7 linked regions of the Homo sapiens genome follow. The protein of the gene in region 4 purifies or fractionates together with the protein of the main gene of each other region. This does not show direct contact. Each region holds a gene or a part of one and is shown on either strand. Other genes may lie near its edges. The genes, in order: WDR44, PLEKHH3, DHRS3, PTCH2, ADCY3, DHRS7 and TAP2.

Region 1 (3,500 bases), on a different chromosome or scaffold from region 4:
CTTTATATGCTAGGAAGCGGGCTACACAAAAGACTTGATAACACTAATTTTACCACAGCCAGATTCTGGGACTCAGAGCTACTTACATGGTAGCTGTGGTGGGCCAGGCTACCACACTAGAATATAGGACACTATAGTCTTGTTATAGCCTTAGAGCAGGGGTCAGTAGTGGCCTGCTTTAGGAGGTTCCCCAAGCTAAGAATGTTCTTTACATTTTTAAAGGTTGTTTAAAATAAGAAGAAGAATATGTGACAGAGACTCTATATGAACAAAAATGCCTTAAATATTTACTGTATGGCTCTTTATAGAGAGAAGTTTTCTGACCCCTACCTTTGAGGTAGCCACATACAGTCCAGATTAATAGCAGTCTTAGTAGAGAAATGCCTTTTGGCCAGGTTCAAATAGAACATTTATTTGTTTTCAAGAATACTAAGACATTATTTCATGAGCAGCAATAGTTTTGGTTCCTAATGTTTTTCAGCATGCTGGGAAAAATGAAGGACTGAAACGTAATGTTCCATTTAGATTTTCAGCAGACTCCATTATCTGAATTATGAAATTCTTTAGAATTATATGTGGTAATAATTGAAAATTTATAGAAATTGATTCAGTCTAATTTCTGTTTATAAAATTATATTTCCAGGAAAATGGAAAAGCACCTGATGGGCAGACTGTAGCAGGTGAAGTGATGGGCCCTCAGAGACCTAGATCCAACTCTGGGAGAGAGCTTACTGATGAGGTAGAAATAGATTTTTTTGTTCTTGTTCTTAAAACATAAAGTACAAAAAACATAATGGGAAGATGAAAACGTTCTGGAGATGGATGGTAATGATGGTTGCATGACAATGTGAATGTACTTAATGACCCAGAACTATACACTTAAAAATGGTTAAAATGGTAAATTTTATGTTATGTGTAGTTTACCACAATTTAATTTTTTTTAAGTTTATTGCTGTTACACACAAAAAAAAATACAGAAGAAAAAATGAAAATTGAAGATTGTCTTTGTTGATATGCTGGATGTAGCATCTCTGACTTAAACTTGCCCTTTCACTGTGTTGCATAGTGGAATAAATATATTGAAAGCAAGGTTTATATTTTATAGAAAGTGGGCTTTAAAAGAACTTGATATTGAGGCCAGGTGTGGTGGCTCACTCCTGTAATCCCAGCACTTTGGGAGGCCAAGGTGGGCAGGTCACTTGAGGTCAGGAGTTTGAGACCAGCCTGGCCAACATGGCAAAACCCTGTCTCTACTAAAAATACAAAAATTAGCCAGGCATGGTGGTGTGCATCTGTAATCCCAGTTACCCAGAGGCTGAGGCAGGAGAATCACTTGAACCTGGGAGGCGGAGGTTGCAGTGAGCCGAGATCACACCACTGCACTCCAACCTGGGCGACAGAGCAAGACTCGGTCTCAAGAAAAAAAATTTAAAATAATATAATAATAAAAGAACTTGATATTATGAATATATGTTATACCAAAATAAATTTTTTTATTATTTTAATGGTTTCTTATCATTAAAACTTAGTATGCACCTATTAGCCAACTTATTCAGAATTAAATTTTACAGCAAAATCTTAGTTGATGTTTCTTTAAAACAATACATTTCTTAAAATATTGCACTTTGGAAAACAGTTTGGCAATTCCTCAAAATGTGAAACATAGTGTTACCATGACCCAGCAATTCCGTTCCTTTGTATATACCAATGAGAAATGAAAACATATGTTCACACAAAAAAATGTACACAAATATTCACAGCATCATCATTCATAACAGCCAGAAAGTGGAAACAACCCAAATGTTCATCACTGATTGGATGGATAAATAAAATGTGGTATATTCATACCATGTTATATTTTTTAGCAATTAAAAGGAATGAAGGGATAAAGTACTGATACATGCTACAACATGGATAAACCTTGAAAACATCATGTTAAGTTAAAGAAACCGACATAAAACGCCATATATTACAGGATTTGATTTATATGAAATGTATGGAATAGGCAAATCTATAGAGACAGAAAGTAGATTGGTATTTGCCAGGGGCTAAAAAGAAAGGGAAATGAGGTGTGACTGCTAATGGGTAGGGAATTTCCTTTTGGGGTGCAGAAAATATTCTGACTTAGTGGCAATAGTTGTACAACTCTGTGAATATACTAAAAACCATTGAATTATATGCTTTAAATGAGTGCATTTTGTGGCATGTGAATTATATCTCAATAAAAATGTTAGAAATTATTGTGTGCAGTATTGAATATATCTAAAAAGCCTTTAGCTTAAATTTTAGGGGATTTTGTAGACTCAAAAAGATAATTAAATTGCAGGTCATCTTGGTGTGATTGTTTTTTTTTTTTAACCTCAGGAAATTTTAGCCAGTGTAATGATTAAGAACCTGGATACTGGAGAAGAAATACCTTTGAGTCTTGCAGAAGAGAAACTACCAACAGGCATTAATCCTCTCACTCTACACATCATGAGAAGGACAAAAGAATATGTAAGGTATGGCCTAATGTTGTTATTTGTCATTTCTAGTATTTCAGAGTTGTTAAGATTTCTCTGTTAATGAACTATGACAACCCCTAATTTGGTTTCATTCAGTCTTTTTTCTTCTGGAATTAAAATAGAGTTAGATAATGTATGTATTCTTTAACTTTGCTCTTCATTATGACTGTACAGTTACTTGGGGAAAATAGTATAAATATTAAATCCCATAGCACTTAATTTCTCTTTTTTAATGATTTAAATTATACTTGAGACAATATAAAAACAGTGAGGCAGCCAGGCGTGATAGTTCATGCCTGTAATCCCAGCACTTTAGGAGGCTGAGGCAGCACTTGAATTCAGGAGTTAGAGAGGAGCCTGGGCAACATAGTGAGACCTCATCTCCACAAAAATAAATAAATAAATTAAAATAACAGAAAAATGAGGCTAAAAAGCTATGTAGAATGAACACTTAGTCTTCTGAAACCTTGCTTTAAGGATCATAAATTGTTTAAATATTTGTACTGTTTTTGTAGGATCAGAAAATGGCTTTAAAATGAGATGAGTGACTTTACTACGAGATGTATGTGGATCTATTGAATCATTTTGGTAAAAGCAGGAGCTATTTTATTAAATGTAATGCAGGATGTACTTAATGAGTGGGGAGGAAGATACCTACAAGTTACTTTATTATTTCCCTATAGCACATTTTGCCAAGCAAAAAGGTTTGTTTGTAGTAGGTTTTTCATAAATTTCTAAATTGCATTCATTTACATGTTGTACATTGAACCTTGCTTAAAGATTCTTTTCTTCAATTTCTGAAGCCTTTAAGTTGTCAGGTCCATCATTTAAATTAAAATTATATGGGCCGAGCACAGTGGCTCACACCCGTAATTCTAGCACTTTAGGAGGCCAAGGTGGGTGGATTGCCTGAGCTCAGGAGTTCGACACGAGCCTGGGCAACATGGTGAAACCCTGTCTCTACTAAAATACAAAAAATTAGCCAGACATGGTGGT
Region 2 (3,290 bases), on a different chromosome or scaffold from region 4:
ACTTGGAGCCTCATCCCGGAGAAAGGGCTGCCGGAGGACGACCCGGACATCGTTGTGAAAGGTAGAGACCCCCCTCAGTGCACTCTGGAGGCCCCCAATCCCAACCCCCTAGGGATTAATGTCTCTACTGATGTCCCTTCCCTCCCTCTCCGGCCCCCAGGTTGGCTGTACCGGGAGCCCCGCGGAGGAGGGGCGCGGCCCTGGCTGCCCCCGCGCCGAGCCTGGTTTGTGCTCACGCGGGACTCCCTGGATCAGTTCAGCAGCAGCGGGAAAGGGGCGCGGCGTCTCGGGAGCCTCGTGCTCACCAGCCTGTGCTCGGTGACCGGCCCAGAGCGCAGGCGTAAGGAGACAGGTGAGACCTCCTGGGGACTCTCCTACCTTCCTAGGCAGGGGCCCCGGCAGACCCTAATGGCCCTCCCTGGCCTCTCTTTTCCCCAGGTCTGTGGTCAGTGACTGTGTCTGGTCGGAAACACAGTGTCCGCCTCTGCTCCCCACGCCAGGCAGAGGCTGAGCGCTGGGGGGTGGCATTGCGGGAAGTGATCGCCTCCAAGGCACCCCTGGAGACCCCCACCCAGCTACTGCTCAGGGACATACAGGTACACACCAGGGAGAGCCAGGAGAGTGGTGGACCCCAAAGCTTTCTGGGGTTGTGAGGAACTCCCTTCCCCATCAAGGTGACCCTCTCCCTGGCCCCCTAGGAAAGTTGCGGGGACCCAGAGGCCGTTGCCCTCATTTACCTGAGGAACCCGATTCTGAGACACACTAGTGGAGCCTTGTATGCCCCACTCCTGCCCCTGCCCTATGGAGTCAGCGCCCCAGGTGAGTGGTCCCATGGCCCAAGTCCCCTGGATGGGATGGGGTGGTTCAGAGGTAAGAATCTGAATCCCTTAACTGGCAGGGATCTAAGCATCCTTCATGGACCTGCCAGCTCCTCACTTTTCGAAGGATGAAGGTGAAACTGGAAGCTGGCCAGGGTGGAGGAGAGGAAGCCAGCACACACAAAAGGGCCCCCTTTGGCCACCTTCTCTATGGGTCTCATTCTGACTACTGATGTTCCTTCAGGAGTTTGTACACTCCCCTATTTTTTCATTATCCTCTTGAGACTATGCCATATTACCTTTACAAGTGGTAGAAAAGCTACCACTTTTGTAGAATGTGCTGGCCTCATCCAACTGTACTTCTCCCTAAACGGTGTAGTGACTGGCCCAGGTCCTAAAGTTAGAGGATTAAAGGGTGCTGGGAGAGGAACCCCGGTTTTCTGACTCCTAGTCCAGCCTGTTTTCTGACCTATGGTGGTGAGCCTCAGTATGGAGTTACAGAATCTGGGGTGTGAATCTACAGCCCTTCCCGGCCGTCCGTCTCCCTAAGTCCAAATGCAGGCTTAGTGGGATTGGGAAGGGGATTCCTGGGAGGCAGAGGTTGAGAGTCTGGCTCCGTGGGACCACTGCTTTCCCTTCACTCTTCCTGTCGTTCGTACCCTCCCCTCCCTGCCACCCCATCCCCTTATATTCCCTCTGACCTTCCCCTGGTTCATGCCTTCCTCCCAGGGCGCAGCTCTGTGTCCCCTCTCCAAACCGTCCCTCCGCCCCCACCCTCCCACAGGTCCGGGCTATGCACCCCTGCGCGAGGAGGCGGTGCGGCTGTTCTTGGCGCTGCAGGCGCTGGAGGGGGCGCGGCGCCCCGGGCCCTTGATGCAGGGTGTGCTCCAAACCTGCCGGGACTTGCCCGCGCTCCGGGATGAACTCTTCCTGCAGCTGGCTAAGCAGACCTCGGGCCCTGCAGGTCCCCCCGGGCTCCCGGCTACCCAAGACCCTGCGGCCCTGCGGTACTGGCAACTCCTCACCTGCATGAGCTGCACCTTCCGACCTGGGGGAGCTGTGCGGGGGCACCTCCTGGGGCACTTGGAGAGGTGAGAGGGGCGAGGTGGGGGTTACGGCCTAGGCGAGGAGCTACCGGGCTGGGAGAGAATGAAAGGTCTTTTGCAAAAGACTTGGTAGGTAAAGAACCGAGTAATACATACAGTGCCTTTGTGGGAGATACAAGATCCTATCGCAGTTGTGAGCGGATGAATTACAATAAAACGCCCCCCTTGGGCTGAGGAGTTATGAAAAGGCTGCTTTTCCTCCAGCTGATGCAGGCCAGCGCCAGGGCTTAGGAAAATGTAGTAAAGTGGCTGGATTTCGATTTCAGGCCGAAGGAAGATCACGAAGACTTTTGGAAGTGGTGGAGGCAGTTGGGAGAAAGCTGCCAGGGGACTTGAAAAGTAATTCAGCTCTATGCAAAGCACTGGGGAGAGATTTAGAAGAGCCTTCAAAGAACTTGAGTTGGGGCGGGGAGGAAATCGGCTAGATAAAATAAACTATAAGAGAAGCAGGCAAGAGGGAGGGGGAGAAGAAAGCCCTTGGAGTATTGATCCCTGGGTTCCTCCTAACCCAGGACCGAGCAGGCACTCCCGGACTCGGAACTGGCGGAATATGCGCGCTTCATCCGGAAAGCGCTGGGCCGGACGCGCGGCAGAGAGCTGGTGCCCTCGCTGGCGGAGATTTCCGCGTTGAGCCAACGGCAGGAGCTGCTGTGTACCGTGCACTGTCCGGGGGCTGGTGCCTGTGCTGTGGCCATCGACTCCCACACCACGGCGGGGGAGGTGAGGCCAGAGAAAGGCCCCATGACCTCCAACCCACCCTGCCAGCTTCTCACGCCTGTCTCTCCCTCTTCCTGGACCCTAGGTTTGCCCCGAGTCTAGATTATTTTGGTAAGGGAGGGAGTGGTGGTGACAGGACTAAGAGACCCCTTCCAATTGAATCAACCCCTCCCAGAATCCTGGCAAGACCTCTGAGTGGTCTCCCCTCACCCTCCTCTTCTAGGTGGCTCGAGAGCTGGTGGGGCGGCTGGGCTTGGCCCGGAGCCGCAACGCATTCGCGCTGTACGAGCAGCGAGGGGCCCAGGAGCGAGCCCTGGCTGGGGGGACCCTCGTGGCCGACGTGCTCACCAGGTTTGAGAAGTAAATGTCCAGCCCCAGCCCTGCTCTCTATTAGCCCATCCACTTCTCAGCTGAGGTCAGTCTCTAAGCGGACATTATCCAGCGCTTGCCCCTGGCCCTGCGCTGTGGTGTTCGCTGGTTTACAGACGGACCTGCCCGCCGCAGGTTTGCAGTCCGACTGCAGCATCACCTCCGCTGTCGGCTCCGCCCAGGCCCCGCCCCAAACACATGGCCCCGCCCCCACCCCAAGCTGCCCTCGCCGTAGGGGTCCGGCTTCTCCCTAGCGCTTCGTCCGCTCCTCTTCTGCAGC
Region 3 (3,500 bases), about 32 Mb from region 4:
GGGCTAAATATATCAGTGACCTCCAAGAGAGGGAAACCCACCCTGACTGTCTGGCACGTGGTAATGTTAACTGTTTTTATGTCGCAGTAAACTCATTTATTATAAATATGCTGTGTGCCAGGTACGGTGTGTGCCATAAATTATTTCTCCTCCTCAGAACAGTCCTGGTGCGGCATTAGCCCCATCTCACAAATCAAGACTGGCGCTCAGAGACGCAGTTCTCTTCCCCAGGCCCTGTGGCTGCTGGTGGTACGGCCAGGTGGCTGCTGGGCCTCTATGTATGCAGGATAACTGGAACTAGGCTGGCAGAAAGTGGCCTGCGGGAAGGAATATCTAAGAAAAACTTGTAAATAACACATCAATTGATTGATCATAAATGGACTCAGAAATTACTCGTTCACTTAGGAGTAAGCCATATCCCTTTTAAAAAGTATATTGGACCGGGTGCGGTGGCTCACACCTGTAATCCCAGCATTTTGGGAGACCGAGGCAGGCGGGTCACTTGAGGTCAGAACAAGATTAGCCTGGCCAACATGGTGAAACCCCATCTCTACTAAAAATATAAAAATTAGCCAGGCATGGTGGCAGGAGCCTGTAATCCCAGCTACTTGGGAGGCTGAGGCATGAGAATCGCTTGAACCCAGGAGGCGGAGGTGGCAGTGAGCCGAGATGGTGCCACTGCACTCCAGCCTGGACAACAGAGTGAGACTCCATCTCAAAAACAAACAAACAAAAAACATATATCGTTGGCCCTGGGCTGGCTGCCCTCATGGCCCCGTGGCTCCCTCTCGCCTGCAGGTGGGTGACATCACCATCCTGGTGAACAATGCCGCCGTGGTCCATGGGAAGAGCCTAATGGACAGTGATGATGATGCCCTCCTCAAGTCCCAACACATCAACACCCTGGGCCAGTTCTGGGTAAGGGCTATCCGGGGCCAGAGCCAGCCCCGGGCGTGCAGGGAGCCCAGGCAGGATGGAGGGGAGGGGATGATTTGCCAGGGCTTGGGCTCAGGCCAGCAGGGATGTCCACGAACAAGGTGGCCAGACAAGACGAATGACCAGCTCTAGGACACATCAGACTTTGTGAAATATGCTCGGTGTCCTGGGGCAGGGAGCCCTCGGCCCTCTCCCTCGCAGGAAGGCTCGGGCCCTAGAGCATCATGTGTGTCCGGGGTGGGCTGTTCTCCCCGAAAGAAAGGTGGAGGGGTTGTCAGAGCTGCAGCTGCTCCACCCTGACACCCCATCTGCCCTCAGACCACCAAGGCCTTCCTGCCGCGTATGCTGGAGCTGCAGAATGGCCACATCGTGTGCCTCAACTCCGTGCTGGCACTGTCTGCCATCCCCGGTGCCATCGACTACTGCACATCCAAAGCGTCAGCCTTCGCCTTCATGGAGAGCCTGACCCTGGGGCTGCTGGACTGTCCGGGAGTCAGCGCCACCACAGTGCTGCCCTTCCACACCAGCACCGAGATGTTCCAGGGCATGAGAGTCAGGTCAGTGAGCAGGGGACCCACCTTGAGACCAGCCTTCTCACCTGCCTCCCCAAGCCATTCAGTCAGCCAACTGCAGAAAGAGCTCTGATATAAAAATCGGGCTAGGCACGGTGCCTCATACCTATAATCCTAGCATTTTGGGAAGCCAAGGCAGGTGGATCGCTTGAGCCCAGCAATCCAGTTTGAGACCAGCCTGGGCAGCATGGAGAAACCCTGTGTCTAAAAAAAATAAAAAATTAGCTGGGCATGGTGATGCACACCTGTATTCCCAGCTATCTGGGAGGCTGAGGTGGGAGGATCAATTGCTTGAGCCCAGGAAGTTGAGGCTGCAAGTGAGCTGTGATTGTGCGACTGCACTCCAGCCTGGGAGAGAGAGTGAGACCCTGTCTCAAAACAAAAAGTCACCAAGGAGCCTCTACCCTCTGTTTGACGCTGTCTTACCTGGTTCTCGGTCTGCAAGGCAGTGATGCCACGATGGGGAGGGTCCTGCTGCTTGGTTCAGGGAGCTTATAGGAAACTACCAGAGCTACAGGCATGCAGCGGGATGTGTCTAAAGGTCAAATGAGGGAGATGCACCTCCACAGCGTCGTGCAGGGCGAAGGGAGCTTGAGACATAGGGTGCATTCTGCCTGGTTCCACCTGTATGAAGTTCCAAAACAGGCAAAACTGGGTTAGGGTGATGGAAATCAGACCCGTGGCTTCCCCTGGAGGGCTGGGGGTGTAACCTGGGAGGGAGGCGAGGGAACTAGCAAGACCTTCAGAAATGTTCTCTCTTCTTGAACTTAGCAGTCATTAAATACGTGAAAGTTAATCAAACTGTCTGCTTAAGATGTATACCTTTTGTTATATGCAAATTATAGCTCAATTTATTTGTTTGTTTATTTAGTTATTTATTGAGATGGAGTTTCGCTCCGTTGCCCAGGCTGGAGTGCAGTGGCGCGATCTCGGCTCACTGCAACCTCCACCTCCTGGGTTCAAGTGATTCTCCTGCCTCAGCCTCCCGAGTAGCTGGGATTACAGGCGTGCGCTTGCACCCAGCTAATTTTTGTATTTTTAATACAGACGGGGTTTCACTATGTCGGCCAGGCTGATCTCAAACTCCCAACCTCAGGTGATCCACCCACCTCAGCCTCCCAAAGTGCAGGGATGACAGGTGTGAGCCACCACGCCTGGCCGTAGCTCAATTTAAAATGAGTAATAGGGAGGTCCCACCACTCCTCCTCCAAACCAGTTAAGTCAAGGGGAACGGGGACCACTGGTCTAGAGCTCATGCCACCTGGGGTGGTGACTCCCTCATAGCTGTGATGTACTCTGTGACATTGGGTCCCGTTAATTACTGCTGTGGCTGATCTGCAAGATGGGGTGCGCGAATGTCTCCATCATAGGTTCTGCAGTGAGGACAAAGTGGAATCTGGCAGGGAACACCGTGTGTGGTACATATTAAGTGCCCAATAAATGGCGCTTTAATGATGTGCAGTTATGTAGGGGCATGACGTCATCGATGAATGAAAACCGGGAATTACTCAAATACTATTCTCCCTGGTTTTTTGCAATCCAGCGTACAGTGCTTCACCTTCTGATTATATATTGCAGCTGCTTCCAAAAATGAGGATGACACGGAAGGGTCATGAGGAGAATTCAGTGAGACAATTTAGTGTAGTGCATGCCACGTGGGAGTCACTCATTACGCCTTAGTTACTATTAATCGGGACAGTGCGGTGTTGATTGTTGAGAATCAAAAATACCGGGCTTGGTGGCTCATGACTGCAATCCCAGCACTTTGGGAGGCTGAGGCAGGAGGATGGCTTGAGCCCAGGAAATTAGAAATAATACATGTAACACATCTAGTGCAAAGCCCGGATACTAGATGCTCAATAAGGAGCTGCTGCTTTTATTATTTTTCCTAACAATAAACATCTTCATAAATGCATGTTATTAATTTTCCTAGCAGACCACCTGGTTTGCATGCAAATTGTCATCAATTCTGAATTTCGAGGAGTCTAGACT
Region 4 (3,500 bases):
GCGGGCGCCTGTAGTCCCAGCTACTTGGGAAGCGGAGACAGGAGAATTGCTTGAACCTGGGAGGCGGAGGTTGCAGTGAGCCAAGATCGCCGCACTGCACTCCAGCCTGGGCAGCAGAGGGAGATTCCATCTCAAAAAAAAAAAAAAAAAAATTTCAGCATGACTCTCTTCTTTCCTGAGGGCTGGTTTCATATGGCAGCCCTTTGATAGGAGTCAAACTCCAGTCTGTTTTTCCCTGGGAAATTTGCATTTTGTAGACTCCCTCAGCCCTGGCCCATACCCAAAGGCAGAACCCAGGTTGGAGTCTCACACCCTCGAGTTATTTCAAATACTGGCAAGTCCTAGGATCCACAGCAGATGTTTCTCAGAGCTTGCCTGCCTGTTGAGCTCCCACACGCCATCCCCACCCTACCTACCCCCAGCCCTGCAGACTCTCACATCCATATACACTCTAGGCCAGCCCTGGGGTCCAGAGCAGATGTCTCGCTCTGCCTGCCTGCCCCCAGCCCCAGGACACAGATGTGCATACACGCACATACACATATCCCCACCCACACCACTGCTGCCTGGGTGGTCCCAGATGACTCTTGGATTTCCTGCCCCAACAGAGGCAGTCTCCCTTCCCTTCCTCCCTCTCCATTCCCCACATTCTCCCCATCTAAACACTGCTTGAGCCTCCATGTTTCCTCATCCTCTCTCCTATACTCCAGCATAGGATAGGCTAGACCCCAGCAGTTTTTTGCTGTTGTTTGGGGGAGGGTTTTATAAGAGGATGGTAGCCAATTCCTAGGCTTTTTTCCTTTATTTCAGAATATCACTCTTGTCCTATATTGGCTGGGGGTGAGGTAAAAATCTTTTTTTTTCTTTCTGTTTTTTTTTTTTTTTTTTTTTTGAGAGTAAGTCTTGCTCTGTTGCCCAGGCTGTAGTGCAGTGACGCAATCTCGGCTCACTGCAACCTCCGCCTCCCGGGTTCAAGCGATTCTCCAGAGTAGCTGACACTATAGGCATGCGCCACCATGCCCGGCTAATTTTTTTGTATTTTTAGTAGAAACAGGGTGTCACCATGTTGGCCATGCTGGCCTCGATCTCCTGACCTTGTGATCCGCCCGCCTTGGCCTCCCAAAGTGCTGGGATTACAGGCCTGAGCCAGACGCTAGGCCAATCTTTTTTTTCATAGAGATGGAGTCTCACTGTGAGACCCAGTCTCAAAGAAAAAGTGTAAGAAGGCAGGGTGCAGTGGCTCACGCCTGTAATCCCAGCACTTCGGGAGGCCGAAGTAGGTGGATCTCCTGAGGTCAGGAGTTCAACACCAGCCTGGCTAGCCTGGCTAACTTGGTGAAACTCCATCTCTACTAAAAATACAAAAATTAGCCAAGTGCGGTGGTTCGCGCCTGTAGTCCCAGCTACTCCAGAGGCTGAGGCAGGAGAATCGCTTGAGCCCAGGAGGCAGAGGTTGCAGTGGGCCAAGATCGTGCCACTGCACTCTAGCCTGGCGACAGAGCGAGACTCAAAAAAAAAAAAAAAGAAAAGAAAAAGAAAGATTAAGCCGAGGAAGAAACCGAACATTGGCTATCACAGTGTTCCAGACCAGAGTTCAGGGTCCTCCTTAACTTTGCCTCAGTGAGACTTGGAATTTGACTTGTTTGTCTTTCCTGGCCAACTGTAAAGTCAAGCGTTCAGAGGCAGATTGTTCTCTAAAATGAAAATTACAAAGGCCTGGCACGGTGGCTCACGCCTGTAATCCTAGCACTTTGGGAGGCCGAAGCGGGTGGATCACTTGAGGTCAAGAGTTTGAGACCAGCCTGACCAACATGGTGAAACACTGTCTCTACTCCAAATACAAAATTAGCCAGGCGTGGTGGTGCATGCCTGTAATCCCAGCTACTGGGGAGGCTGTGGCAGGAGAATCGCTTGAACCCGGGAGGCAGAGTTTGCAGTGAGCCGAGATCGCGTCTTTGTACTCCAGCCTGCGCAACAAGAGCTGCCATTCCATGTAGAAGACAGAGGATGGCCTTATATCAGTTGGTAGAATCACCATCCACTTAAATACCTAAAGCTAAAACCTTAGGAGTCAGCCTCAGTTCTTGTTCACCCAATTGTTTACTAAACTATTAAATCCTTGCTTCTTAACCTCTCTCATAACAAACCCATCCTTTCTTTTTTTTTTTTTTTGAGACGGAGTCTTGATGTGTTGCCCACACTGGAGTGCAGAGGTGCGATCTTAGCTCACTGCAAGCTCCATCTCCCGGGTTCACGCCATTCTCCTGCCTCAGCCTTCTGAGTAGCTGGGACTACAGGCACCCGCCACCATGCCCAGCTAATTTTTTTGTATTTTTTTTAGTAGAGACAGGGTTCCACCATGTTAGCCAGGATGGTGTCGATCTCCTGACCTCGTGATCCGCCCGCCTCGGCCTCCCAAAGTGCTGGGATTACAGGCTTGAGCCACCGGGCCCGGCACAAACCCATCCTTTCTACCTTGTGGTCACTGCTCTAGTTGAGGCCTTGTTCTATCTCTGGCAATACACTTCTGATTGTATCATTTAGAATGCTTTTAGGCCAGGCGTGGTGGCTCATGCTTGTAATCCTAGCATTTTGGGAGGCCAAGGTGGGAGGCTTGACTGAGCCCAGGAATTCAAGACCAGCCTGGGCAACATGGCAAAAACCCATCTCTATTTCTAAAAAATTAAAAAATAAAATAAGGCCAGGCACAGTGGCTCACACCTGTAATCCCAGCATTTTGGGAGTCCAGGGTGGGGTGGATCACCTGAGGTCAGGAGTTCGAGACCAGCCTGGCCAACATGGCAAAACCTTGTCTCTACTAAAAATACAAAATTTGGCCACACATGATGGCATGTACCTGTAATCGCAGCTACTCCGGAGGCTGAGGCAGGAGATCACTTGAACCCAGGAGGCGGAGGTTGCAGTGAGCTGAGATCGTGCCATTGCACTCCAGCCTGGGTAACAGCAAGACTCTGTCTCAAAAAAATATATAAATAAATAAATTAAATTAAATAATAGAATGCTTTTAGCCACATGAAAAGAGAAGAAAAGGAAAGGAAGAAGGGAAGAAGGAAGAAAGAAGATTGATTTATTATTCTCTGTAACAGGAAGCCTGGTTAATTCAGTTAATTCGGCAGCCCAAGGACATTAGCAAGGACCCAGTTTCTTTCTATCTTTCTCCTCTGCCATCTTCAACATTCTGGACTTTTGTCCTCAGACTTATCTCAAAGTGGCTGCTGCAGTGTCAGGAAAAAGAAATCATTCTTGTCTTGCATTTCTTTTTGTTTTTGTTTTGTTTTATAGAGACAGGGTCTCACTCTTTCACCCAGGCTGGAGTGCAGTGACACAATCACAGCTCACTGCAGCCTGGAACTCCTAGGCTCACACAGTACTCCTGCCTCTTTCTCTGTAGTATCTGGGACTACAGGCACATGCCACCATGCACAGCTAATTTTTTTGTTTGTTTGTTTGTTTGTTTGTAGAGACGCAGTCCCACTATG
Region 5 (3,500 bases), on a different chromosome or scaffold from region 4:
CAATTGGAGCACACGGTGCCGGGCGCAGTGGCTCACGCCTGTAATCCCAGCACTTTGGGAGGCCAAGGCGGGCGGATCACGAGGTCAGGAGATCGAAATCATCCTGGCTAACACAGTTGAAACCCCGTCTCTACTAAAAATACAAAAAAATTAGCCGGGCGTGGTGGCAGGCGCCTGTAGTCCCAGCTACTCAGGAGGCTGAGGCAGGAGAATGGCGTGAACCCGGGAGGTGGAGCTTGCAGTGAGCCGAGATTGTGCACTGCACTCCAGCCTGGCAACAGAGTGAGACTTTGTCTCAAAAAAAAAAAAAAAAAAAAAAAAAAAATTGGAGCACACAAATACAACCAACATGGAGACTTATTCTGCCAGTGGTATAAGTGAAAAAGCTCCAGGGCTGCAGCTAATCAGAAGTCCAGTGGGGGGCCGGGCGCGGTGGCTCACACTTGTAATTCCAGCACTTTGGGAGGCTGAGGCAGGCAGATCACTTGAGGTCAGGAGTTTGAGACCAGCCTGGCCAAGATGGTGAAACCCCGTCTCTACTAAAAATACAAAAATTAGCCAGCCACAATGGCACGAGCCTGTAATTCCAGCTACTTGGGCAGCTGAGGCAGGAGAATCGCTTGAACCTGGGAGGTGGAGGTTGCAGTGAGCCAAGAATGCACCACTGCACGCCAGTCTGGGCGACAGAGCGAGACTCCATCTCAAAAAAAAAAAAGAAAAAAAAGAATAAGTCTACTGGGAATGAGGAGTTAGGGGCTCCAGAGCCTACCTTGGCCAGGGGTTGCTGGTGCCCACTACCCAGGGAAGAGAAGCCCCAGGCCCCCTGCATGTCACAACATGCCTGGAACCTGGCACCCAGGTGTGGAGGTCACCACTGCATGGGGTCCTGGACACTGTACAGGACACCTGGAGATGCTGTCACTCATGGAGGGGTAAAAAGCTAGGGAGGTGTAACAACTGCTCATGCTAGAATGACATGGCGGGAATCGCGCAAGCAAGACAAGGTTGCCCTGTGGGTGAAAGTTACAAAAAGGGGGGGTTGATTCCGGTTCTGGATGCGCTTTCTCCCGGCCGCATCTGCCCAGTAGCAGAACCAGTAAAGAATCCAGAAGGCAGTGAACATCCCCCCAATGGAAGGATTTGGGCAGAGACTAGCTGTCATCACGGGGAGGCTGTGAGTGGGGCTCATGGTCCCGTGGCCCCTCCTGAAGCAACAGTGTGATATGGGGAAGAACATGTTGGATTTGAAGCCTAAAGACTTGGCTCCTACTTTTGGCTTTTCTGCTTGCTAATTGTGTTTGGGCAAATCTGGCCCGAGTTTTCTGTACAATAGGGACAGTACTAAAAATACTCGAGAGAGTTTTTGTGAATGTCAAATGAGGCAACGGCGAGGCTCTTAGCTGCAGTTACTAACTTTCATATGATTAGTCCCTGGTAAATTTCCCCATCTTTCCCGGTATTTCTGGGGGAGCCGCGGGAGGTGGCAGCTGAGCGTGCACTACCATGCACAGCCCTCTGTGACCAGCACCTGCTGTTCTCTTGAACGTGTGTCCCTGCCCGCCGTCCTGGCCTCCAGCTCAGCTGTCTCCAGTACTACACGGGACCCAGCAATGCAACGGCAGGGATGGAAACGGAGGGCAGCTGCCTGGAGAACCCCAAGTATTACAACTATGTGGCCGTGCTGTCCCTCATCGCCACCATCATGCTGGTGCAGGTCAGCCACATGGTGAAGCTCACGCTCATGCTGCTCGTCGCAGGCGCCGTGGCCACCATCAACCTCTATGCCTGGCGTCCCGTCTTTGATGAATACGACCACAAGCGTTTTCGGGAGCACGAGTAAGATGAAGCGTGACTGGGGATCTGTATTGTCTCCTTCCTCCCGCCCGCAAAGTCCTCAGTTCAAGCTCATGGGCCTGTGCTGAGGTGGCTTTCTGCCACTAGGGGTCCTCAAAGGCTTGTTCAAGAACCAGTTCCTGGCTGCTCACAGACGTATCACTGTTTGGCTAGGACCTGAGAATAGATTCTTCCCATTCTCCCCGAGTGGAGGACTTGGGATACCCCGGTGCCTGGCTGGGCATCAGGCTCTTGTTCCCAGATGGGGCCTGACTGTGCTGTTATCTGTCCAACAGCTTACCTATGGTGGCCTTAGAGCAGATGCAAGGATTCAACCCTGGGCTCAATGGCACTGACAGGTAAGGGCCACGGCTTCCCCTCCTGGCCTGCACTCACAGCCCTTCTTCTAGAGACAGGAATATAACAGGCCCAAGCCCCGGGATCTCACCCTCCCGGGAGGCACGTGACCTGATACGTGCAGGTTAGAGAAGCTGGCATGGGTTCCTCCAGGAGGGCTGCAGCAGTGCAGTGAGGAGGGAAGGAAATACCAGGTGGATGGCAGCTGCATGTAACTGGCTGGCAGGACAGACAGGCAGCAGGAAAATGAGGAGGGAGGAAGACGCTTTGGATTTGGACCTGGCTTCTGAGCCTGCAGCAGGCAGTAATTCTCTGTGGGTCACAGGCAGGTCCGTTTCCATGAGTTGCAATTTCATCTCTTGAGGAGGATACTGAACCAGAAGTTCTCTAAGGTCCCTGCCAGTGCCAAGGTTTTAAAATTTTATGATTCCATGACTTGAACAGACCTTCAAGGAAGTTTAGAAATAAAAAGATGACCTAATAGAAGAGGGGTAAAACCTGCATAGCCCTTAGCAAAAGAAGAACTCTAAATGGCCACTAATAAATGGCACTCAAGTAATCAAGGAAATGCCAGTTACACCCTAGTGAGATACCATCACACACGTACCGGTCCAGATAACTCTGACAATATCAAGTACAATAGTAACTCTTACACTCCTGGTGGGAGTATGAGTTAGTACAACCGTGTTAGAAAATATTTTGATCTATTTAGTAAGGTTGAAAATAAACCTGTGTCCCAGCAATTCCACTCCTACATACACACCCACGCAGACGTGTGTATATGTGTATATATATATATACACACATCTTAGAGAAATTCATGCACATACTCATGTCCCAGGATATATGTATGAGAATGTCCAAAGTGGCACTGTTCGTAATAGACATACCCCCTCCCCCAAAACAAATGAAAACAACCCAAATGACATCAACAGGAAATGGATACATAACTGGTATATTCATGCAGTGAAATACCATACGGTAATGGAAACTAACCACAGCTCCACATAAAAATATGTATGAACAAGGTAAAAAGCCATGGTGAGATTGTACCCCAGTCCCATGGCTATGAAATCCCATCACTGATGTCTCTTGCTTCTCCAAATTCCTGCATGGTTGTAGCTACCTCTGTGATCAGTCAGGCAATGCAGTGTTTCTTAAATACCTGGGGAGCAGCCCTGATGTGAATACCAGGTGCAGCCAGGAGGGGCCAGGGGTTGCCTGGCTGTTGGAGAGGAGCCCAGTGAGTTAAGAAAATTTTACTGCCCGGGGGAGCCCGACTTGATGTGAAAGGGCCTAAGGAGCCGGGG
Region 6 (2,390 bases), on a different chromosome or scaffold from region 4:
TTATAGATGATTATGCAGCAAAAGATTATTGCTGAGGATGGTTTTTACTGTTAGCCTTTGATATACTTTGTTACCACCTTCTTTTAGAAATTAATCAATGGGGATTGACAGATAAAAAAAGAATTATAAAACAAGATCATACTATATATACCTGCAAAAATTTAAGCAATCCACTAATTGTTAGACATTTAATTTATTCCAACTCTTTGCAGGACAGTGAAAATGAATTAGGGGGTAAAAAGTTACAAACACAACAAAATGCTTAAGAGACATAAAAGGTTATCAGACTGGGTCATGACACACTAAAATGTCCAGAGTGTGAAAAATCAAAAAGGAGCTTTTCGTTTTCTACCAAGTAGTAATGTGGAACAGTTTGCTTTGGGCCAGATCCCTTATGAGTGTTTTGGTATTGTTGGGACTTGGTAGTGTGGGTAGAAGCTCTAAAGGTAGAGTTTCATCAAAGAGTATACCTGAGTTTTAAATATGGAGGACAGCTGATGCAGTAGCTTTGTGCCCAGTGATGGAAAGAGTTGAGAGGGACAGGCCACCTTACTACAGAGGAAGCACAGCCTCCTGGCAGAGCATGCAGCCTGGTGCTAGGCTACCTGGGTTCAAATCCCAGCTCTGCCCCATGCCCTTAAAGCAAGTTACTTCTCTATCACTCAGTCTCCCCATCTATTAATATAAGATGGAGATTAATGATGATAATAGTGCCCAGTCACAGGATTGTTATGGGAATTACATGAATTTAATATATGAAAAGCACTTAAAACACAACTTGGAGTGTTCTAAGTGTTAGCTATTGTGCTTTTTCCCCCTTCTCAGCTTGAGTTAGATATAGCAGGATATTCAGCTTCCTTAATGATCAAAGATTTTCTTTATAATTGACACATAAAAATTATATATATTTAAGGTATACATTGTGATGATCTAATATACACTGTAAAATGATTACCACAATCAAGCTAATTAATACATGTCACCCAGTTACCTTTTTTTGTGTGTGGTGAGAACACTTAAAATCTTCTTAGCAAATTTCAAATATGCTATACAGTATTATTAACTGTAGTCACCATGCGGTATATTAGATCCTTAGAATCTGTAAATTATAATAACATAAGTTATTTATCTTATAACTGAAAATATCTACCATTTTTTTTCTTTGAGACAGGGTCTCGCCCTGTCACCCAGGCTGGAGTCTGCAGTGGCGTGATCATGGCTCACTCCCATCTCTACCTCCCAGGCTCAAGCAATCCTCCCACCCCAGCCTCCTGAGTAGCTGAGACTATAGGCGCACACCACCATGCCTGGCTAGGTTTTGTAGTTTTTGTAGAGACGGGTTTTTGCCACGTTGCCCAGGCTAGTCTCAAACTCCTGGGCTCAGGCGATCCACCTACCTTGGCCTCCCAAAGTGTTGGGATCATAGGTGTGAGCCACTGTGCCTGGCCAAAATGTGTACCTTTTGACCAAGATCTCCCCATTTCCTCCATCTTCTGGCTCCTGGCAACCATCATTCTACTCTGCTTTTGAGTATGACTTTTTAGATTCCACAGAAGTGAAATCACATAGTACTTGTTTTTCTGTATCTTGCTTATATCACTTAGCATTAACGTCCATTCATTATCCATGTTTTCACAAATGCCAGGAGTTCCATTGTTTTATGGCTGAAAAATATTCCATTGTGGAATAATATTCCATATATATATATACACACACAGACACACACACACATTTTCTTTATCCATTCATTCACTAATGGACACTTAGGTTGTTTCCATATCTTGGCTATTATGAATAATGCTAAAATGAACATGGGAGTGTAGGTATCACTTCAAGGTACTGATTTCACTTCCTTTAGATTTATACCCTTAAGTGGAATTGCTGGATCAGATGGTAATTCTATTTTTAATTTTTTGAGGAATTTCCGTATTTTCCATAATGTCTGTACTGGTTCACATTCTCAATTTAAATAATAGGGCAGAGAAAGAATATATTATAGAAGTGATTTTTTTTTCAAAGGGGAAAGAGGGACCAGGGACTAGAGAATTTCAGTCCCACTGTAGTAGTACTTCCAGAAATGTCCATATGAAGGATATTTTGTTTTGTTTAGAGAATATCTAACTGTAAAATATAAACATCATTTAGCAAATCTCGCATTTTTTTTACATCTAGGTTTTTCTAAAAAAATGACAGCCTTTTTCTTCCTACCACCATCTTTGAAATATTGCTTATTATATAGTCTTACTACTTTGTCACTCTTTATTATAAGCTGGGCATTCTGTCATTTCTCAAAGCAATTTTTAGGACATAATACCTCATTCTTTATAGTCTGTACTCTTCCTCTCTCCCACTATTTTATATTTTATATATATGTATATATATAAATTTTC
Region 7 (3,500 bases), on a different chromosome or scaffold from region 4:
CAATACAAAACCAAAACCCGCAAGTAATTTTGCTATGGAGAATTTTAAACATATGCCAAAAATGAGACAAAATAATATTACAAACTCACATGTATACATCCTGTGCTTTAACAATGATCAACTCATGCCCAATCTTGTTGGATCTGTATCCCCAGCCACTTCCCCCCACCCATATTATTCTGAAGCAAATCCAAGATATTGTATACTTTCATCTGTAAATATTTCAGTATGTTTCTTAAAAATACAAACATCTTTAAAAGTGTATAACAACAAAGCCATTATCACACCAAAAAATTAACAGTAGTTCTTAAAATTTATCAAATAGTCAATTGTCAAATTTCCACTTGTGGTATCCATGTAGTATATGTGTATGAGTGTGTTTATTATACTTTGCTTAAATCAGGATCCAGAAATGGTCCACATATTGTGACTGGTTGATACATCTTTTAAGTCTGTCTGTCTATCTATCTATCCATCCATCTATCCATCCATCCACCCATCAATCCATGTATCTGTCTAAAAGTTTCCCTTGCACAGTTTATTTGTTGAAGAAATAGGTTGTTTGTCCTGTGGAGTTTCTTAGGGTCTGGATTTTGTTGACTGAATCCCTGTGGTATTATATGCTCTTCTGCCTCTGTACTTCCTGTCTATTGATAGATAAACCTAGAAGCTTGTGAGATTGAGGGGTTTTTTTTGGTCTTTTTCCAGCAACAGTACTTTTTAGGTGGTGATGCATTCTTCCTCCAAGAGGCACACAATGTCTGGTTCTCTATTTGTGGCAACATCAGCCACTGATGAGCAGTACCTACATCCATGACAGAATTAGGGCTGCAAAAGGGAGATACTCTATCATTCTTCATGTATTAGCTGAAGTAGTCTATGAAGGGAGACTTCCCCTCATCTACCATTTCATTACCCGGTGGTACAGTTTGATGAGGAAAGGCAGAGTGAGCATTTAGATCTCTTCCTACATTTACCAGTTCTCAAAAACAGCTACTTCATCCAGGGCTTTATTTAAACATTTTCCTAGACACTTGATAAACATCTTTTTTGTGTAGAGAACTGCGCTGGGCACTCTGACGGCTACAAAGGTGAGTTGGGCACAGTGCCTGCATTTAAGGAGCTCCCCGTCTAATCAAGCAAGACAGAACTGGGCACAAGTAATAGGAAGCAGTAACTGAAAAGATCTGGGGCTAGAGGCAATGCTGTATGGTAGGAGAAGGGACTGTATATCCTTTATATTGCAAATTGGAACACTGGGGTATTGGTGCCACTTTTAAATTCCGTCCAAATTGTACATTTAAAAGTGGAGAATCTCTTTTGAGTATGGAGGAGGAGCAGTGCAGTTGTGAGTGGAGTGTGTGAGGAGTTGGGAGGGTGGTTTCTGGTAGAAGTGTGTTTAATTAGCCGGCTCTCCCATTCCTGTTTTCCAGACCCTGGTATACATATATGGGGATATGCTCAGCAACGTGGGAGCTGCAGAGAAGGTTTTCTCCTACATGGACCGACAGCCAAATCTGCCTTCACCTGGCACGCTTGCCCCCACCACTCTGCAGGGGGTTGTGAAATTCCAAGACGTCTCCTTTGCATATCCCAATCGCCCTGACAGGCCTGTGCTCAAGGTGCCTGAAAGAGGGAGGAAACCTGGACCCTTGCTCTCTGCTGCTAATGCATAATTGGACATCACAGCCTATAGTTCATTTGCCTCTGAGAACCTGGTCTTGCCTCTGCTAAGAAGAGAAATGGAGGGATTTTGAGGGAGAAGGGGCAGGCCCTTAACTCTTTTTCTGGTTTTCTAGGGGCTGACGTTTACCCTACGTCCTGGTGAGGTGACGGCGCTGGTGGGACCCAATGGGTCTGGGAAGAGCACAGTGGCTGCCCTGCTGCAGAATCTGTACCAGCCCACAGGGGGACAGGTGCTGCTGGATGAAAAGCCCATCTCACAGTATGAACACTGCTACCTGCACAGCCAGGTGGGTGAGGAGGGAGAAGACAGGGGACAGGAGAGGGGAGCATGTACAGAGAGAGGATGGGAGATCCACGGGAAGGCGCACCAGGTGTTCATTCTGAGGGAGGTAGGTGGGGAGGACAAAAGGGCCCCTGCCTTGGGGGTTTACACATAGTCCTCTGCCCCTGTCCCTGCTGCACAGGTGGTTTCAGTTGGGCAGGAGCCTGTGCTGTTCTCCGGTTCTGTGAGGAACAACATTGCTTATGGGCTGCAGAGCTGCGAAGATGATAAGGTGATGGCGGCTGCCCAGGCTGCCCACGCAGATGACTTCATCCAGGAAATGGAGCATGGAATATACACAGGTATCTTCTACAAATTGTAAGCTTGCTCCTTCAGTAAAAAAGAGAAAATCAGACTTACTCTTAGTGGTGAAGGTCGTGTCCCTGTAGCTTGATGTTTGCTGTTCCTCTGCCCTTTCCTCCATTCCTACGTCTCCTTCCCCACACACTGAATTCTTCAGCCTCCCTCTTGATCAAGAGTCTTTGTTTGCAGAGAGCAATGCAGCAGTGGTGCTCCCTCCGTGGGCAGCCCCGTCAGGTCCCCACCCCATGGCCCTCCTCCCACTGGGCCCTCCCCGCACTGGGCCCTCCCACCTCCCGAGGTCCTACTGGAAGTACCTGCTGTGCACTTGTCCCTCCTTGTGTGTTGTCTGTGTCACTTGTATCTGAGGAAGGGAATTTCTCTGATTTCCTCAGATGTAGGGGAGAAGGGAAGCCAGCTGGCTGCGGGACAGAAACAACGTCTGGCCATTGCCCGGGCCCTTGTACGAGACCCGCGGGTCCTCATCCTGGATGAGGCTACTAGTGCCCTAGATGTGCAGTGCGAGCAGGCCGTGAGTACCGTGAGAGGGCAGGGGACAGTGGGGCCTGGGAGGGGCATGCTGGGAGGATCAGACTGTGCAGAATTGGGCAGAGGGAGGACGAAGGACCTACTAGTGGAAACAGTCTGTGCCTTCTTGGGGTTGGGGAATGGAATCCGGTGGTGTGAGGGCAGCCCCAGTTCCCTCCTGGGCTTCCATTCCTCCAGCTGTGGCAGTACAGCCGGGAGAGAAGGGCAGTCCAGGCCTTTATCTACTGCCCTTTCCTACCTTCTTTTATTTCACACCTTCTTTACCCTAAATCATAAGAGATGGTGCCCAGGTGGATGTGGTGTCCATCTCATTCCTGTCTTTCTGAGGCACTGTGATCACCCCTTCAGCTGCAGGACTGGAATTCCCGTGGGGATCGCACAGTGCTGGTGATTGCTCACAGGCTGCAGACAGTTCAGCGCGCCCACCAGATCCTGGTGCTCCAGGAGGGCAAGCTGCAGAAGCTTGCCCAGCTCTAGGAGGGACAGGACCTCTATTCCCGCCTGGTGCAGCAGCGGCTGATGGACTGAGGCCCCAGGGATACTGGGCCCTCTTCTCAGGGGCGTCTCCAGGACCCAGAGCTGTTCCTGCTTTGAGTTTCCCTAGAGCTGTGCGGCCAGATAGCTGTTCCTGAGTTGCAGGCAC

Evidence for each region.
Region 1: the proteins of PTCH2 (region 4) and WDR44 purify together in Homo sapiens (affinity purification with mass spectrometry; one large-scale study listed by BioGRID and IntAct). This does not show direct contact.
Region 2: the proteins of PTCH2 (region 4) and PLEKHH3 purify together in Homo sapiens (affinity purification with mass spectrometry; one large-scale study listed by BioGRID and IntAct). This does not show direct contact.
Region 3: the proteins of PTCH2 (region 4) and DHRS3 purify together in Homo sapiens (affinity purification with mass spectrometry; one large-scale study listed by BioGRID and IntAct). This does not show direct contact.
Region 5: the proteins of PTCH2 (region 4) and ADCY3 purify together in Homo sapiens (affinity purification with mass spectrometry; one large-scale study listed by BioGRID and IntAct). This does not show direct contact.
Region 6: the proteins of PTCH2 (region 4) and DHRS7 purify together in Homo sapiens (affinity purification with mass spectrometry; one large-scale study listed by BioGRID and IntAct). This does not show direct contact.
Region 7: the proteins of PTCH2 (region 4) and TAP2 purify together in Homo sapiens (affinity purification with mass spectrometry; one large-scale study listed by BioGRID and IntAct). This does not show direct contact.

The regions. Positions count from the first base shown.
Region 1 is NC_000023.11:118,394,606-118,398,105, forward strand, and holds part of WDR44 (WD repeat-containing protein 44), read left to right. Parts: intron 1-643; coding exon 644-739; intron 740-2,364; coding exon 2,365-2,501; intron 2,502-3,500. UniProt on the Homo sapiens protein: Downstream effector for Rab11 which regulates Rab11 intracellular membrane trafficking functions such as endocytic recycling, intracellular ciliogenesis and protein export.
Region 2 is NC_000017.11:42,670,705-42,673,994, reverse strand, and holds part of PLEKHH3 (pleckstrin homology domain-containing family H member 3 isoform 1 precursor), read left to right. Parts: coding exon 1-61; intron 62-160; coding exon 161-352; intron 353-438; coding exon 439-596; intron 597-698; coding exon 699-819; intron 820-1,602; coding exon 1,603-1,909; intron 1,910-2,436; coding exon 2,437-2,644; intron 2,645-2,864; coding exon 2,865-3,001; intron 3,002-3,289; coding exon 3,290-3,290.
Region 3 is NC_000001.11:12,576,711-12,580,210, reverse strand, and holds part of DHRS3 (short-chain dehydrogenase/reductase 3), read left to right. Parts: intron 1-798; coding exon 799-918; intron 919-1,187; exon of another isoform or gene 1,188-1,254; coding exon 1,255-1,493; intron 1,494-3,500. UniProt on the Homo sapiens protein: Catalyzes the reduction of all-trans-retinal to all-trans-retinol in the presence of NADPH.
Region 4 is NC_000001.11:44,836,754-44,840,253, reverse strand, and holds part of PTCH2 (protein patched homolog 2), read left to right. Parts: intron 1-3,500. UniProt on the Homo sapiens protein: Plays a role in the control of cellular growth. May have a role in epidermal development. May act as a receptor for Sonic hedgehog (SHH).
Region 5 is NC_000002.12:24,826,238-24,829,737, reverse strand, and holds part of ADCY3 (adenylate cyclase type 3), read left to right. Parts: intron 1-1,576; coding exon 1,577-1,836; intron 1,837-2,129; coding exon 2,130-2,192; intron 2,193-3,500.
Region 6 is NC_000014.9:60,146,009-60,148,398, reverse strand, and holds part of DHRS7 (dehydrogenase/reductase SDR family member 7 isoform 1 precursor), read left to right. Parts: intron 1-177; exon of another isoform or gene 178-2,390. UniProt on the Homo sapiens protein: NADPH-dependent oxidoreductase which catalyzes the reduction of a variety of compounds bearing carbonyl groups including steroids, retinoids and xenobiotics.
Region 7 is NC_000006.12:32,828,740-32,832,239, reverse strand, and holds part of TAP2 (antigen peptide transporter 2), read left to right. Parts: intron 1-1,433; coding exon 1,434-1,622; intron 1,623-1,799; coding exon 1,800-1,973; intron 1,974-2,150; coding exon 2,151-2,310; intron 2,311-2,703; coding exon 2,704-2,840; intron 2,841-3,205; coding exon 3,206-3,334; 3' UTR 3,335-3,500. UniProt on the Homo sapiens protein: ABC transporter associated with antigen processing. In complex with TAP1 mediates unidirectional translocation of peptide antigens from cytosol to endoplasmic reticulum (ER) for loading onto MHC class I (MHCI) molecules.